Linked DNA regions of Homo sapiens: region 1 is linked to region 2. The links come from fine-mapping of genetic effects on gene expression. Tissue or cell type: testis. Region 2 holds a variant in brackets; the other region holds the start of a gene. All regions are shown on one strand. Distances are from middle to middle.

Region 1 (5,307 bases), 38 kb before region 2:
GGATCTCGGCTCACTGCAAGCTCCGCCTCCCGGGTTCACGCCATTCTCCTGCCTCAGCCTCCCAAGTAGCTGGGACTACAGGCGCCCACCACTACGCCCGGCTAATTTTTTGTATTTTTAGTAGAGACGGGGTTTCACCGTTTTAGCCGGGATGGTCTCGATCTCCTGACCTCGTGATCCGCCCGCCTCGGCCTCCCAAAGTGCTGGGATTACAGGCGTACAGTCAACTCTTTTAACAAAGGCACCAAAAACACACATTCGGGAAGGACAATCTCTTCAATAAACTGTGCTAGGAAAACCCAACACCCACATGTACAAGAATACATCGAGGCTGTTATCTTACCATCTACTGAAAATAAAGATTTAAATGTAGGACATGAAACTATGAAACTACTAGAGAAGAAAACAGCAAAATGCCTCATGAAATTGGTTAGGACAAGGGATTTTCAAATACACATCAAAAACACAAGCAACAAAAAGCAAAAATAGACAAAATGCAATTGCATTAAACTTAAACGCTTCTGCAAAGTAGAGAAAGCCATCAATAGAATGAAGAAACAATCCAGAGAACGGAAGAAAGTATTTGCAAACTATGCATCAGGCAAGGGGTTAATACAACACAAAATATATAAAGAACTCAAACTACTCAAAGCAAAAATACAAATAATCTGATTTAAAACTCAGAAAAAGTTCTACCCAAAAATTTTGTCCCCCACCTTCTTTTCTCAACCACCTTTGGCCCCCTCCCTCTCGCCACCCTTTTTCTTCATCTACCCCAAAACATTTCTCCCACTATTTTTCCCCACTGTCATTTCGCAAAGCCTTCTCTACTCTCCTGCTCACCACCCTTTTCGCCATCCATCTACCCAAAAACTTTTCCCCCCTCACTGGACACCCTCTTTTTCTCCCTTCTGCTCTCATTCTCCTTTTGCTCCTCCATCTACCCAACTTTTCCCTCATATTTTCCCAAGGCCTTCTCGCCATTCCTGCTGCTCGCCACCCGCTTTTCCAACCTCCATCTACCCAAAAACTGTTTTCCCCATCGTCTTTCCCCCCTCCTCCTTGCCACCCTCTTTCCCTTCTCCATCTACGCAAAAACGTCTCCCCACCGTCTTTTCACAAAGCCTTCTCCCCACTCCTGCTCACCACCCTCTTTCTTCCTCCATCTACCCCCGCAAATTTCCCCACCGTCTTTTCACTAAGCCATCCCCGTTCCCACTCGCCCTCTTCTTTCCTCTATCCTTACCATCCTCCTTTTGCCCTCCATCTACCCCAAAACTATTTTCCCCATCGTCTTTTCCCCAACTTTTTCCCTCCTCCCTCTCGCCACCCTCTTTTCTCCTTCCACTTGCCACCCTCTTTTCCCGCTGCGTCTACCCACATTTTACCCACCGTCTGTCTTTTCTTTCCCCACCATCTGTCTTTTCTGCCCACCATCTTTTCACAAAACCTTGTCTCCCTCCCACTCGCCATCCTCTTTTCCCCTCTCCCGCTTGCCACCCTCTTTTCCCCCTCCATGTACCGAAAAACTTTTCTCTCCCCACTGTCTTTTCCTCACGGTCTTTTGGCAAAACCTTGTCTCCCTCTGCTTGCCACCCTCTTTTGTCCCTCCTGCTCACCACCCTCTTTTCCTCATTCCTGCCCCTCCTCTTACATGCCACCTTCCTGTCGCCCTCCATCTACCCCAAAACTATTTTTCCATCGTCGTTTTCCCAATCCTCCTTCCACTCTCCCGCTTGCCACCCTTTCTCTCCTCCATCTACCCAAAAGCTTCTCCCCCAGTTTTTTCTCCCCACTGTCTTTTCTTCCCACCGTCTTTTTGCAAAACCTTCTCCTTCCTCCTACTCGCCACCCTTTTTTCTTCTCCTGATCACCACCCTTTTTTCTCCATCTACTGAAAAAAAAGTATTTCCCCACCATCTTGTCCCCACCGACTTTTCACAAAATCTTCTCTCCCTCCTGCTCACCACCTTCTGTCTTCCCCCTCCCTCTCTGCACCCTCTTTCTTCCTCCCACGTGCCACCCTTTCCCACCTCCATCTACCCAAAATCTTTTTACACATCTTTTCTTTCCCCAGTCTTTCTGTTCTCCTCACCGTGTTTCTCCCCACCGTCTTTTTGCAAACCTTCTCTCCTTCCTACTTGTCCCCGTTTTCCCCCCCCACCACCCTGTCTTTCCTCCTTCTACATGCCACCCTTTTTTACCCCCTAGATACCCAAAAACTTTTTTCAACCATCTTTTCCCCACCGTCTTTTTGCAATGCCTTCTCCTGCTTGCCATCCTCTTTTCCCTTTGCTGCTAGCCACCCTCTTTATCCCTCCATCTACCCAAAAACTATGTACCCCCTCCTACCACTCCAGCCGAGCTGCCGTCTCTGTCGCCAGCACCCACCACAGCGAGGCGAGCCGTGGTGCCACACGCTCCAGCCTCCAGCTGTGGCAAGTGACTACCCCTTCTCCTGGTCCTCTAAGCCTGGCACGGAGCAGCTGCGCAGGCAGCCACACAAGAGCCTGGAATGGCCTGATGCCCCTTCTGCATGCCTTATACATGAGCTTATGCAAATGAGGTTCCTGGACTACATATTCTGATTGGATGAGAGAAAACCTCTAGGCCTATTCTGATTGGACTTTATTTTCATGCTGTGATTGGTTGTCCTAAGACTTGCTCTCATCCAATCAGAATCGAAGCTGGGAGCTCAGCTTAGAGAACAGGAAGTGGGAGCCACATACCCCGAGCTGGCGGCTTGAGCCTGTGGTATCTAGGCTCACCTCACTGCGGTTGGTGGAGGTGATGGAGGTTGCAGCTTGGCCAGCATGGTAGAAAGGTGGCAGGGTAGGTGAGCTATCCAGGGATGCGCTACCCTGGGTAGGAGCACTATCAAGGTCACATTGCCGGTGGGGTATCGGGGGCATGGGTTGGCGGAGTTGGTGGGGGCTATACTGCCTGGTGGTGGGGGTGGTTGTGTGTACTAAGGGGGCTGACCGCCAGCTAGGGGGAGGGTTAGGGGTGCTATCAGCTCCTGCACTGTCATGGCAGGGGGGCAGGTTGGGGGCACTATCTGGGCTGTCACTACCCCCAGCAAGGGCTGGTTGGGGGCACTATCCCTGGCTGCACTGCTGGGGGCAGTGGGGCAGTTTGGGGGCACTATCAGGTTTACATGCCCTGTGGCATGCCGGTGGGGGGGCACTATTGGGGGTTGCACTGCACTGCTGCTTCTGGCAACGGGCTACGGGGGTGGCTGCGATAGCTGTGGCCTCCAAGGAAGGGGCCGTCCTCCTCTTCCCAGACTCTAGATTCTAGAGGGCAACCTCTGTTTGCTCATGCTGGAGCGTGGCAGGTGCACAATGTTTCCTTGGGAATCCTCAGCAGGGTAAGGCCCCCACACCCGCCATGGTTCCCGGGCCTGCCCCTTCTCACTGTGTTGCAGAGACAATCTGGGACCCCTGGGCACGGAGTATTGGGCACCACGGGGGAACAGGGTCCTGTGGGTGGAGGCATCAGAAACAGGAACTGGCACTTGGTTGGAGAGAGCTAGCTGGGTCTGAGTTTCTGCTTCTCCTGCTCACCAAGGAGTGCAGCCAGCGTGGGCCCAGCAGTTCCTGGCCAGCTGGACCTCGCCAGGGGCCGGTTTCAGCAAAGGCAGTCACACCCACCCCAGGTCCCAGTTGTGCCTTTGATGAAACCAGCCCCTGCCACCCAGTGGCCAGCATGACAAGGTGAGCCTCTAACACTACCACTCCCTGCATCCTGTTCTAGGCACGTCTGGCTTTTACCACCCAGTTGCTTCGAGCCAGGAGATGGAGGAGTCATCTGTTGCACGCTGGAGGCTGGAGCCTGCAGATGGCATGGTTCTGTGGCTCACCTCGCTGCAGTTGGTGGCAGAGACAGAGACTGCAGCTTGACCAGAGTGGTGGAGTGGTAGGAGAGTGTCTGCGGGGGCCTCCTGGAGGTGGTAGGAGGCTTGTAGGGTGGGCCGGTGCATTGAGGGCAACAGCAGCGGTGCTCATGTTGGTGTTGGCATTAGTGGTGGCGGCAGCAGCAAGTCTGGGATCCGAGAAGTGGGAGTGGGAATGCTGTGGAGCCCACCGGGCCCAGCCTGGCCTGAAGTGGGGAGGCAGCTGCGGGTGCTGTACTGTGGGCCTAGGTGGCAGCAGTGGAGGCCCAGCCATGGCAAGGAGGAGTCCTCCTCCTTCTCCTGCAGAATCTGGAAGTGCCCTCCTCCTGCTGGTGCCTGGGCCAGGTGTGAGTGGCAACATTGTCTTATTCTTAGCAAAATTTAGCGGGTGACTATTGGTGTATCTTTTAGCTTGGCTTTGTTGTGAAAAGTCTTGAATTTTTTTCAAATTTCATAAATCAGGAGGGGAAATAAGGTATCATAATAGGCTTTGTAATTCCCGCACCTGTTCTTCCTTTCTTTCAGTCTGTTTTTTCTTCTTCTAATCATCATCTTCTTGTTCCTCTTCATTTTCTTATGCTGCTGCTTCTGTTTCTTGTTTATATTCTTGTTTCTCCTCCTCTTGTTTTCATTATCCTAAGCAATGGCCTTAACAAACAACAAACCAAAACTGAGTTAAACATAAACTACTTGTCACCGAGTTGTATTCTTAAAATAATCAGTCCATTACTATGCTTTAGAGATGAGGAAAAACATTGATTGCGTAATTATTTGGTTACTTGAATAGCTATGCTTTCATGATCCTTTTAATGTGTTGTAAGTAGTTATTCAAGGAATCAAAAATGAAGCATCAGATAAAATATTGCTAGCAAACAGCCATTTCATCTCTCTCACATAGTCTGGAGCTATGCAAGAGTCAGGGGGTAATTAGTTCCAATTTATGAGATCATTAAGTGAACTGTATTCCTTTCATTTTATTTCTCTGCCACCATTTTCAAGAGTATTGTCATCTGCATGAGCAAATCTGGTTCATCACATCTTTGCAACAGGAAAAGGAAGGGAGGATCATGTGTATAATGTTTTAAGGCCAAGATTCACAACAAGAACAAAGTCTTTATTAACTTTTGCCTTCAAGAACCTGCAGTGTTGAGCCCTTTTTTATTTCTGGTATTACTACCTTTGGTATGAAATCTTTTTTTAGTGATTACTTGAAGTTTATGCATTTTATTGACTACTTTAAAGAAACAATCTATATTGTATCATTTTTCAAGCCCACAGGAATGCATAAAGTCTATAATTTTGACACTTTTTATTTTTAAGGTTATGAGCATGTAAAATACTGTTGATATGTGTAAGGATATGTAAAAATGCCACTAGATAGCTTATGTTGAAGAGATAGTGTCTAAATTTTT
Region 2 (5,378 bases):
GAGCTAACCTACTTTTACAAAGTCATTTGCAGTCCTTTGCTATGTTTTTCTAGATAACTTTATGATAACTTTATAACTGTGGGCTCAGTCTGTCTTGCATCAGTACTTCTAGGACATCAATATGAATATTTAGAAGTGTCTTACATATGAATCATAAATCATTTTAATAAACAATCTGATGGCCACTGTTGCATATGACTATTCTTTAGGTTTGCTGCAACATGGTAATTGAGCTTTTCTTTTGAAAGTGTGAGATTAGTTTTTCAACACTAACTGATGACAATAGCCTGTCTCTGAAGGAGTTAAACCTAGCTGCTAAGGCAGGCAGTGTTTTATCTATGTAAGAGCCATTTACTGCACTGTCTTCCACCTTGAATTAGAGGTGGGCAAGGTAATCTTATCAACAGTTCGAAGCAAATCCATTTTTGGATTTCGAATTATGAGATGGCACTATATATTGCAGAGTGGTCTCTCTCGCATTATTTCAAGTTATTTCCACAATTCTATAAAGTAGATTAGATGTTTGTTAGATGAGAATTGTTAGATGAGAAAACTGAGACATATATAGTTAAATCACCTTAGTCATTTGCCTTAAGAGACAAGCTCTCAAATTATTTTCTTCATTTTTAGTCAGAAAGTTATATTATTTCCAAAGGATAATATTAATATGTACTCTAATATAAAATATATTACAAAGTTTAAGCATTAGAGAACTACATAATGCAGGAAGAGAAAGACCCACATAATCACCTTCCCCTTCCAATAACTGTTTTCAGTTCCCTTTCTTCCTTTTTCTACACATAATATCTATATATATTTTCATTTTTTACTATTTACAAAAATGCAATAATAATGGATTCTATTCTCTACATACTATCTAAAATTTGTTAGAATTTTTTCTCTGCTTAGTAATAAGGGGAAAAATAATATTTCTCTGTGATTGTTTTTGTACATTTATTTGGATTATTTTAAGTTTTTATTACTAATAAAAATGTTGTAATAAGAATTCTTGTTTATAGTTTTTTGCTCTCAGGTAAACTTTTGTTTAATTTACAAAATGTAGTATGTATCAATAAGTAACATGTAGTTGAATAATTACATATGTATTTCATTCAATGCACTATGTGAAATATATTATTTCATTAAATTCCTGACAATACACAGGAATTATTGACTAAATGTCAGAAGATGATTTAAAAAATTAAGGTAACATTTTTCTAAATTTAATCTGTGAAAATACCTTTACAACTTTTTTGAAGGAAATTGGTCAATCTGTGTGTATTTAACTGTTTAGTAAACCAAGTAAAAACATATTTATCAGGTATTCACAATGGAAAACATGTAAGCTAATCCCTTGTGGAGGAAGGGAAGACAAGGAGAAATGAGTTATTCAATCTCTGTTATGCTCCAATCATTGTGTGAGACTTTTTTTTTACTGCTGTTCTGTAATCTACAAACCATTATGTACATTATGAATTACTATTAATTTTGTTATATAATCTGATGCTTCAAATGGTAAAATAAATAAATAAACACATAAATAAAACCCAAGTTTACAAAGTTTGTAAGTGGTAAAGTTGAGATTTGAACCAAATATTTGATCCTAAGGTTAAAACTATTCTTATTTCACCATATTGCATGTGATATGATGCAAAGATATGAAATGTTTTGTGAATAAACAGTCTATTATCCACTTTGCTTGTAAAGGGCATATCTATACAGAGAGATATAGATATGATATATTGTTTCTTATAATAGTGGGGTTTCATGAATTTAATTACACATTTTTTTCCTGTAAAAATAAATCTAATTCAGCTGATTGATTTTTTTCCATGGGTAACATTAAGGTAAAAGTGTCAGTGTTGCAAACTTGGACAGAGACATCATTTTAGAACCCAAAAATTAAGTTTCTGTAAAAATGTAAAAGTAAAAATGTAATCTCTTTAATAAGTCTAGGTTCTAAGTCATTACTACTAACGTTGTGGAGAATGTCAACATGAACATTAAACACTTTGCAGAGCAAAACAATTGAGGATTTGCCAAGAATTAGAGCAACATGATGAAACATAACTTTAATTTTTGAAGACAAAAATTACTCGAGTTTATTACAAATAGCTCAGAGTGGTTAAAGAGGACTCCTATCATATTCTGATAAATTTTAAATCATCAGTTCAGCTCCTCCATATTCAGTACAATCCCCTCTTTATTGTAAGTGCATCTGCCCTTACAATCACAGTGGCTGCTTTTTCTACCACACTTTGAAATAGCCAGTAAATATCGAGAATTTATATTTACACAGAGAGATCATCTATGAAATCTTACATGTATTTATTTCATCTTAAGAAATAGTATAACAGTTGATCAAATGTTGCATAAACTCCTCCAGGACAGTAAACTGCACGTTCCTATTAAGTGAAATAAACTATCCCAGATGCCAGAATCCCACTGGGGGAAGTTTTCTGTGAAAGCATGCATTCGTCGCAAAGACACGGACAACTTATTCCCCAGGAAATATTCATTTACTATGACATCAGGGTTTTTATCGTACACCTGAAAATTTATTAGAATAAAACAGTGTATTTAAAGAAACTTACCCTAGCAATCATAACGCAGAAGCAGTTAATGACAGGTATCTTTTTTAAAAAGGCATTGAATGTCATTAAAGCAAGTCACATGACTGTGATTGTGACTAAATTGTGTAGCCATCAGTAATCCTTTTCTTTCAGTTTTAGGGACGTGCTATTATACATTGAAAGCAAAGGGGTCATTGCCTTGTAAAGTCTGCCTGAATCATCGTTTCTTAGGGGTTGCCGGAAAGGCATTGGCCTCTGCGGGAGAACCCCAGCCTCCTCCTGGGGCCTCTCCGCTTTTTTCCCCAGATGCCCCAACGTCCCCCTGCAAGCCTGGCGTCCTGTCCCTGTCCCATGGGGAACTTCTTGCCGCTTTGGGGTGCCGCCCGTGGGGGAGACACGCACCCTGGGTGCAAGTCAGGGACTCCACAACCCTCCCGGCCCTGCGCAGGGGCTTCCGGGAAGGCACTACCATCTGTGGAACCACCACAGCCGCCTCCTCGGCCTCGCTGTTGTTTTCCCTGGGCTGCCTCAACATACCCCCGCAAGCCTGGCATCCCGTCCCCGTGACCCGGGGGACTTCTTGCCGCTTTGGAGGGCCCCCGGTGGGG[G/T]GAGACACAGGGTGAAGCCGGGGACTCCACGACCCCCTGGGCCCCACGCAGGGGCTGCAGGGAAGGCACTGGCCTCTGAGGGATGATCCCAGCCTCCTCGGCCTCACCGCTTTTTCCCCCGGCTACCTCAACCTCCCCCTGCAAGCCTGGCGTCCTGTACCCGTGACCCAGGGGACTTCTTGCCACTTTGGGGTGCCGCCCATGTGGGAGACACGCACCCTGGGTGCTAGCCAGCGACTCCAGGACACGCCGGGCCGGGCGCAGGAGCTGCCGGAAAAGCAATGGCGTCCGCGGGATGACCCCTTCCTCCTCCTGGGCCTCGCCGCTTTTTTCCACCTGCTGCATCAACATCCGCCTGCAAGCCTGGCATCCTATTCCCCTGCCCCGGGGGACTTCTTGCCGCTTTGGGGTGTCCCCTGTGGGGGAGACGCGCACTCTTGAGTGCAAGCCAGGGACTCCAGGACCTTCACGGGCCGGGGAAGGGACTGCCGGGAAGGCACTAGCCTCCGCGGGACGACCCCAGACTCCTCCTCGGACTCACCACTTTTTTCACCGCATTGCCTCAACGTTCCCCTGCAAGCCTGGCGTCCTGTCCCCGTGTCCCGGGGCACTTCTTGCCGCTTTGCGGTGCCCACGGTGGTGTAGACACGCACCCTTGGTGCAAGCCAGGGACTCCACGAACCCCCGGGCCCGGCGCAGGGGCAGCCGGGAAGGCACTGGCCTCCGCGGGAAGACGCCAGCCTCCTCCTCGGCCTCCCCGCTTTTTTCCCTGGCCTGCCTCAACGTCCCCATGCAAGCCTTGTTTCCTGTCCCAGTGCCCCGGGGAACTTCTTGCTACTTTGGGGTGCCCCCCGTGAGGGAGACCCTGGGTGCAAGCCACGGACTCCATGACCCCCGCGTGCAGGTGCTGCCGGGAGGCACTGGCCTCAGAGGACCCCAGCCTCCTCATCCTTACCCCTTTTGTCCCCGGGCTGTCTCAACGTCACTCTGCAAGCTTGGTGTTTGTCCCCATGCCCCGGGGGACTTCTTGCCCCATTGGGGTGCCCTCCGTGTCGGAGACCCCACCCTGGGTGCAAGCTGGGGACTCCACGATGCCTCTCCAGTGGCACAGGGGCTCCCACGATGGCACTGGCCAACTCGTGATGACCACAGCCTCCTTCTAGGCCTTGCCGCTTGTTTCCCCGGCGTGCCTCAACGTCTCCCTGCAAGCCTGGCGTCCTGTCCCTGAGCCCCGGGGGGACTTTTTGCTGCTTTCAGGTGCCCCCCATGGGGAAGACAGGCACTCTGGGTGCAAGCCAGGGACTCCACGACCATCCCCCACCCAGCCAGGGCCGGTGCAGGAGTGGCCAGGAGGGCACTGGCCTACTCGGGATGACCACAGCCGCCTCCTCGGCCTCGCGCTTGTTTCGCCGGGCTGCCTCGACGTCCCCCTGCAAGCCTGGCGTCCTGTTCCCGTGCCCCGGGGCACTTTTTGCCACTTTCAGGTGCCCCCCCACCGTGTTGGAGACACGCACCCTGGGTGCAAGCCAGGGACTCCACAACCCCCCTGGGCCCGTGGGAGGATCATTTGAGCCTGGGAGATCGAGGCTGCAGTGAGCTATGATCATGCCACTGAACTCCAGCCTAGGCAAGACAGCGAGACCTTACCTAAAAAAAAAAAAAAAAAAGGAAGAAACATTGGTCATTTGTGATGGATATCTGTAGCTTTGCTTTCCCAAAATCTATTTTCCTTTCTTTGGGTCCCTGATTTGCCTGCAGGCACCACAACTGCAGCATTGTCTGTAACTCAGGAAGAACTGTCCTTACCATTGGCTACAGTAGTAAAGATAGCTGATCAGTATTTTGTTTTTGTTTTTTTTTTAAATCAGCCACTCTGGCCACAGTAACTATTAGAGAAAGTATGTGATCAAGCCTGACCAATTAAAGCCAAAAAGACTGAGGGGATTTTAATCGGGAGCTCTCAGGATAAAGATAACCTCATCACTAGGATCACTAAGAAGAGAGAATTGAACCTGAAGCTGCGGGGAAACACCTTCCTAAGAATGGTGCCCAACCTGGGAAAACAGCTCCTGCATTCTGCTTTGTCTAAGGCCAGCTCTAAAACACGTTATCCCAATCACTTCTCAGCCTTTTGGCTAAGATTAAGAGTAAAACACATCCCTAGGGCTTTCATTGTATTAATAAAACAAGTGAATAA

Alleles and levels. Positions count from the first base shown, and alleles are read on the strand shown. Sizes are in standard deviations (SD) of each study's normalised expression.
As copies of G replace T in region 2, the expression in testis of the gene that starts at base 2,699 in region 1 goes down (large effect, 0.84 SD a copy in GTEx).

What was found. PIP is the estimated chance that this variant, and not a neighbour inherited with it, causes the effect. A credible set is the group of variants that fine-mapping cannot tell apart.
Region 1: LINC00408 starts here. The variant in region 2 is the best candidate, but not a certain one, in a credible set for the expression of LINC00408 in testis (GTEx, PIP 0.74).

What each region holds. Positions count from the first base shown.
Region 1 is chr13:18,902,741-18,908,047 of GRCh38, forward strand. LINC00408 (long intergenic non-protein coding RNA 408) reads left to right here and starts at 2,699. Exons shown (of 6, transcript NR_104118.1): 1 at 2,699-2,836; 2 at 3,287-3,370; 3 at 3,757-3,918; 4 at 4,895-5,062.
Region 2 is chr13:18,940,418-18,945,795 of GRCh38, forward strand. No RefSeq gene overlaps it. Among named protein-coding and RNA genes, the nearest start is that of LINC00408, 38 kb to the left of the region's middle. The variant G/T (reference allele first, on the strand shown) is at 3,182.